2 linked regions of the Homo sapiens genome follow. The protein of the gene in region 2 purifies or fractionates together with the protein of the main gene of each other region. This does not show direct contact. Each region holds a gene or a part of one and is shown on either strand. Other genes may lie near its edges.

Region 1 (3,654 bases), on a different chromosome or scaffold from region 2:
TGGGTTCAAACCGTTCTCCTGCCTCAGCCTCCCAAGTAGCTGGGAGTACAGGCACATGCCACCACGCCTGCCTAATTTTTTTGTATTTTTAGTAGAGATGGGGTTTCACCATGTTGGCCAAGCTGGTCTTGAACTCCTGACCTCAGATGATCCACCCACCTCAGCCTCAAAGTGCTGGGATTACAGGTGTGAGCCACTGCGCCCGGCCCTATTCCCTGCTTCTATACCTTTGCCCAGCTCTCCCTTCTGGCTGGAGGCCTATCTTATCCTTCAAGGTCTGGTTCAGTGGTTTTCAACTGGGGGTGATTTTTTTCTGAGGTGACATTTGGCAATGTCTGCAGACATTTTTACTTGTCACAACTAGGGGAGGAGGTTTGATGATGACGTCTAGTGGGTAAAAGCCAGGAATGCCGCTAAACATCCTACAGTGCGCAGGACAGCTTCCCACAGCAAAGAATTACCCAGCTATAAAGATCAATAGTCCCTATTGAGAAACCTTAGTGTAGTTGCAGCCTTTGCTCTTCAGGAGATTCTTTATAGTTCTTCCCCATCTGCCTCACTATTCCAGACTTCCAGGACACCCAGGCACCACACAGCAGTAGGCAGTAGAACATAGTGGGTAAGAGCATGGACTGACTGGGATTGAATCCTAATCCTAGCACACACTTACACTGAGACCTTGAGCAAATACTTAACTTCTCAGCACTATTCTTTTCTCAGCTGTAAAATTTGAATAATAGTAGTAACTGGCCCGTTGCAGTGGCTCACGCCTGTAATCCCAGCACTTTGGGAGGCAGAGGCGGGCAGATCACCTGAGGTCGGGAGTTCGAGACCAGCCTGACCAACATGGAGAAACCCAGTCTCTACTAAAAATACAAAATTAGCTGGGCGTGGTGGCACATGCCTATAATCCCAGCTACTAGGGAGACTGAGGCAGGAGAATCGCTTGAACCTGGGAGGCGGAGGTTGCAGTGAGCCGAGATCGTGCCATTGCACTCCAGCCTGGGCAACAAGAGTGAAACTCCATCTCAAAAAAAAAAAAAATAGTAGTAACCTACCTCCTAGGCTGTTATGAGGATTAAATGAATGAATATGGAAAAAGTGCTTAGAGAACAGTATGTGGTGCATACTAAGTGCTCAATAAGTGTTAGATATAACAATATTTTTATTATTATCAGCATCTAGCTCAGGGGTTCCAAAACTAGCCAGCCAGCTTGCAGATATCTTTGGCCAGCCCAGCGTTTTTTGTTTTATAATTGATTTATAGTTTATATACCACAGAAGTCATCATTTTATTTTATTATTATTATTTTTTTGAGACGGAGTCTCACTCTGTCGCCCAGGCTGGAGTGCAGTGGTACGATCTTGGCTCACTGCAGCCTCCGCCTCCCAGGTTCAAGTGATTCTTCTGCCTCAGCCTCCTGAGTAGCTAGGATTACAGGCACCTGCCACCACACCCGGCTAATTTTTTTTGTATTTTTAGTAGAGACTTCACCATGTTGGTCAGGCTGGTTTGAACTCCTGACCTCGTGAGCCACCTGTCTCAGCCTCCCAAAGTGCTGGGATTACTGATGTGAGCCACCGAGCCTGGCCAGAATTCATCATTTTAAAAGTTTACAGGCCAGGTGCAGTAGCTCAGGCCTGTAATCCCAGTACTTTGGGAGCCCAAGGTGGGCAGATTTCTTGAGCCCAGGAGATCGAGACCAGCCTGTACAACATGGTGAAATCCTGTCTCTGTAAAAAACACAAAAATTGTGGGGCACGGTGGCTCACGCCTGTAATCCCAGCACTTTGGGAGGCCAAGGCAGGTGGATCATGAGGTCAGGAGTTCGAGATCAGCCTGACCAACATGGTGAAACCCTGTCTCTACTGAAAAACTACAAAAAATTAGCCAGGCATGGTGGTGGGCGCCTGTAATCCCAGCTACTCAGGAGGCTGAGGCAGGAGAATCACTTGAACCTAGGAGTCAGAGGTTGCAGTGAGCCGAGATCGCGCCATTGCACGCCAGCCTGGGCAACAAGAGCAAAACTCCGTCTCAAAAAACAAAAAACAAAAAACAAAAAAAAAAACAAAAATTAGCTGAGTGTGGTGGTGCATCTGTAGTCCTAGCTTTTTGGGAGACTGAGGTGGGAGGACGGCTTAAGCCCAGGAGGTAGAGGTTGCAGTGAGCCAAGATCACGCTACTGCACTCCAGCCTGGGTGACAGAGCCAGACTCTGTCACAATAAATTAATAAAGTTTACAATTCATGGCTTTTAGTATATTCACAAGGTTGAACATTTTCATTACTCCAAAAAGACGCTCCATACCCATTAGCTGTCAATTCCCATTTCCCTCCAGCTCTCCTAGCCCCTGGCAACTACTAATCTACTTTCTGTCTCTATGGATTTGCCTATTTTGGACATTCCATATGAACAGAATCATACAATATGAGGTCCTTTTTGGCTAGCTTCTTTCTTTCTTTTCACTAAATAAAATGTTTCTGAGTCATATAGCTTCTTTCACTTAGTATAATGTTTTCAATGTTTGTGCATTGGAACTTCATTCCTTTTTGTTGACAAATAAATGTAAGGTCTCTATGTTAATTTCTTTTTTGCCTTTGTGCCATGGTTACGTAAAGTCTTAACCTTTGGAGAAACTGGGTGAAGACTACATATGGAAACTGTTCATACTATCTATATAAATCTGTAAATCTAACATTATAACAAATCACAAGTTTAAAAAGTACATAAATTTACAGTATATAGAGAAAAATAGAAATATGCATATTTTATCATGATACAAAACATTTGATTGCTGACCTGTTTGTTGATTTTTTTTGTTTTTTCTTTCCTTTTTTATCCTCTAAGCCTCTGATCACTTATCATTGTCAAGGTTGAGCAGACAGAGAAGTGCATACATTCTGCAGCTTGAGTGCCTAACTTGAGATTCTGTTTCTGACATTTACTGTGGATTTGGGGCAATTAAATTAACTTTCTGTGTCAAGTGGGAGGATCACCCAAGCCCAGGAGTTTGAGGCTGTAGTAAGCTATGATAGCAGACTGCACTCCAACCTAGGTGACAGAGTGAGATCCTGTCTGTTTTTTGTTTTGTTTTGTTTTGTTTTTTTGACAGAGTCTCACTCTGTCGCCCAAGCTGGAGTGCAGTGGCTCCATCTCAGATCACTGCAAGCTCCGCCTCCCGGGTTCACGCCATTCTCCTGCCTCAGCCTCCCGAGTAGCTGGGAATACAGGTGCCCGCCACCACGCCCGGCTAGTTTTTTATATTTTTAGTAGAGACGGGGTTTCACCGTGTTAACCAGGATGGTCTTGATCTCCTGACCTCATAATCCACACGCCTTGGCCTCCCAAAGTGCTGGGATTACAGGCGTGAGCCACCGCATCCGGCCAATGCAATTGTTTTCTTAATTCCATTTTCTGCATGTTCTTTGCTAGTGCATAGACATACAATTTTTTTTTTTTTTTTTGAGACGGAGTTTTACTCTTGTTGCCCAGGCTGGAGTGCAATGGTGCAATCTCGGCTCACAGCAACCTCCATCTCCCAGGTTCAAGCGATTCTCCTGTCTCAGCCTCCCAGGTAGCTGGGATTACAGGCGCCCACCACAATGCCCAGCTAATTTTTTGTATTTTTAGTAGAGATGGGGTTTCACCATGTT
Region 2 (3,654 bases):
CGGCTAATTTTTTGTATTTTTTACTAGAGACGGGGTTTCACCGTGTTAGCCAGGTCTCAATCTCCTGACCTCGTGATCTGCCCGCCTCGGCCTCCCAAAGTGCTGGGATTACAGGCGTGAGCCACCACGCCCAGCCAATAGCTTTAAGAAACTTTAAGAAGTGGTGCAATGGAAAATACTAATGATTTAGATTCAAAATTATTGAAATCAAGTTCTGTCAATTCTTGGTAAAGACACTTAACATCTTGGGAAATTAGTTTTCTTAAATGTAAAAATGAAGATAATAATATTTACCCATTCAAGATTTATTTGAGGACTAAATGAGATAATATCAGTGGATGTTTATTGTAAATAATCATCTACTCAGCTATTTTCTGTGACCCCACTAAATACAGAGATCTATACAGAATTACAGTGTCTGTTCTTGAATTGGTCGTTGAAAGCCTTGATACTCAACAGGTGCTTCACAGACTAGTTGCATGAGCTACTGGAGCCTGCTGTAGGCCTGCTAAGTCTGGAGTTTTATAAAATTCCCAGGAGATTCAAGCACACATCACCATTTAGATGCACTTCTCTAAGGTTCAATCACTGCTGGGCCTTGTGATATGAGTGAGTTCTACAAAATATCAAAGGAGTGGAAAACACAGACTATTTTCATGTGGTTTTTAAAATAATTGTTATAGCTCTAGGATTCTCAGAAGCATGATCAAAGAACCAGCAGAACAACCTATGAGGTTATCAGTATAAAATTCCCTTCTTTGTGTTTACTTTGTTTTTACTTGGTACAAAAGTGTTGTGCCACCATACGAAGACTCCAGGCAGATGATGTTTCCCTACAGCATGTATCATAGCCATGTCAGAGAAAGGATATGTCGCTGGGAATGGGGCTCTTTTGTTTAGGTAGACCCTAGCGTATTATGCATGCCAGGAAGAAACTTTATCGAAATAGGTAATCTAACCTCAGAGTCCCTAAAACTTTTAAAAATATTGCTGTGATCTTGTTCTTGAATGTCCCCTCACTGTAGTTCCCACAAAGCTCACAATTCTCAGCACTCTCTGATTCCTAGCCTGTGTGAGGTCAATTAAATGAAACATTTTTGACATACAAGCTTTTAAAGCAGAAGCCCACTATAGACACAGTGGTCAGGGTAAGCGCTTCCACTTTCCTTCCCCACCCGCCCTCTGCTCCTAGAGATGGAGGCGTCCCACAGCCACAGTGATGTCACAAGGTTGTATGTCCCTTTGATGCGAAATCAGTAGCTACACTGGAACTCAGCTCCTCTCAGTTCCACTTGACTTGGTGGTCTGGTACCAGAGTCACTAGCCATGAGTGCCTCTTGAGGCATGCAAAAAAAAAACTTCTCTCCTCTCCTCCTGCCATCACTGCAGTCTGGGGACATTTCTGTCAATGTCAGAAACAGGATGTAGCTTCCTCTGTGTCAGGTCTTAAATCTTCTGCCCCTGTGCTTCTGAAATGCCTTGAGCAGGGCTTGTGGACATAACCCTGACACATTCCCTTAGTGAACCATTCACTAGGCACTGTATGTCATTGTCTGGTGAATGTTTCACTAACCCTACCCAGTTGATTACATATTAAGGGGAAAAAATTATTAGTGATTCCAATTACTAAAAAAAGAACAATATGGGTCATCACGTTAAAATGAGTCACTTGAGCATTTGTTAAGATTTGTTTTTTATTTTAGCTCGTAATATGTTACCGGTTACTGTCATTAATCCATCATAATATTCTTTTTAAACTAATTCTATTAAATCATTACTTTTCTTTTGACTCTGATCATAGAACCCAAAGCATGAAATTCAGAAGCTGGCAGAATTTATTGGGAAGAAATTAGATGACAAAGTTCTAGATAAAATTGTCCATTACACTTCGTTTGATGTCATGAAACAGAATCCAATGGCAAACTATTCATCGATTCCTGCTGAAATCATGGACCACTCCATTTCTCCATTCATGAGAAAAGGTTTTTATAGTTTATTTTCATTATAATCTTAAAAGAACTGTCAAATATTTTAAAGCATTTGAGGAGTTTTCTTTCCTGTGTCTAGGAAAAATAATATCTGTAATAAATGATTTGGGGAAAAGAAGTATTTAAGAAGCCACTGATAAAATGAAAATCGCGTTTAATTAGCCAATTATTATTAAGATTAAGAGAGTAAGATTTGATGTCCAAATCCAACCACTTATCCCCACTTTCCCTTAAGAGTTCTGGCTAATAACATGAAAATATATAGAATTAAGTCAGATAGGGCAAAGAATCCATTTTATAGACAGTTCTATGCTATCAGATTCAGTCATTCAAAGGTACTTACTGAGGGGCTTCTATGTGCCAGGCACTGTTCTAGCCACTGTTTGCAGCAGTGAACAAAACACAAAAATTCATGCCTGCGTGGAAATTATATTCTAGTGATAAGCAAAATAAAGAATATATAGATAGATAACATTAAGAAAAACGAAACTGGGAAAGGTAACAGGGATTACAATTAGAGAATTTGTGGGGGGAGGTCTTATTTTTTCTTCTTCAAATGGTACCTTGGGCCTCCCAGAAATAGGCCCTTCTTGGTCAGTTTACAGCATGGGAGCTACAGTCATGAGCACCCACCATGCTTCAATGTGCAACAGGGCACAGGGAAAGACAAGAAAGCCCTTCAGGCCTGCTATTGTAACATGGCGGTCTCGCCCACCCACTAATGCAACCAGGTGGCAAGAGACTCTCCTTGTCTCACAGATCAGACAAGAAAGTTGTCTTCTCTTCAGGATAAGGAAGTGACAGGATAGCAAGAGAAACGTTTTGTCCAATACTGCCCTTCCTAGAACATGGCATAGAAATCATCATACAGAAACAGGAGAATAGGGAAGCACAGACTCTTCCAACAGCTACTGAACCTCTCCCACATAACTGTATTTCAGGGGCAGTGGGAGACTGGAAGAAACACTTCACCGTGGCTCAGAATGAGAGATTTGATGAAGATTACAAGAAGAAAATGACTGATACCAGACTAACTTTCCACTTCCAGTTCTAGTAAGGAAGAAAAACTGAAAATGTTTTAGTTTATTACCCAGTATATTTGGGTAATAATGAAAGTTTAATTCTCATAACAAATGATATCAGATTCCAGTTATCAGAATAGTTTACTGTGTTTGCTCTTATTCACTCTACTAAAAAATTATTTTAAAAGGCTGGAGGCAAGGTGGTGACAGGCAGCAGGGTGGCGACATGGAGAGAGGGAAGCTCAATAAATCACTAGGTACAATCCTGGTATCATTGCCAATTATCATCATATTTACATTTTCTACAATCATGTGCTTATTAACATATTGGAAATGCTTCAGTCCTCACATGATAATACACTAACATTTTCAGATTAAGTTTTGGTTCAAGTTAATTTTTTTTTTTTTTTTTTTGAGACGGAGTCTCGCTCTGTCGCCCAGGCTGGAGTGCAGTGGCACGATCTCGGCTCACTGCAAGCTCTGCTTCCTGGGTTCACGCTATTCCCCTGCCTCAGCCTCCCGAGTAGCTGGGACTATGGGCGCCCACCACCACTCCCGGCTAATTTTTTTTTTTGTATTCTTAGTAGAGACGAGGTTTCACCGTGTTAGCCAGGATGTTCTCGATCTCCTGACCCCATGATCCA

What was found. The genes of interacting proteins can lie anywhere in the genome.
Region 1: the proteins of SULT1C4 (region 2) and RPAP1 purify together in Homo sapiens (affinity purification with mass spectrometry; one large-scale study listed by BioGRID and IntAct). This does not show direct contact.

Annotation. Positions count from the first base shown.
Region 1 is NC_000015.10:41,537,695-41,541,348, reverse strand, and holds part of RPAP1 (RNA polymerase II-associated protein 1), read left to right. Parts: intron 1-3,654. UniProt on the Homo sapiens protein: Forms an interface between the RNA polymerase II enzyme and chaperone/scaffolding protein, suggesting that it is required to connect RNA polymerase II to regulators of protein complex formation.
Region 2 is NC_000002.12:108,384,391-108,388,044, forward strand, and holds part of SULT1C4 (sulfotransferase 1C4), read left to right. Parts: intron 1-1,801; coding exon 1,802-1,982; intron 1,983-2,929; coding exon 2,930-3,042; 3' UTR 3,043-3,654. UniProt on the Homo sapiens protein: Sulfotransferase that utilizes 3'-phospho-5'-adenylyl sulfate (PAPS) as sulfonate donor to catalyze the sulfate conjugation of phenolic compounds.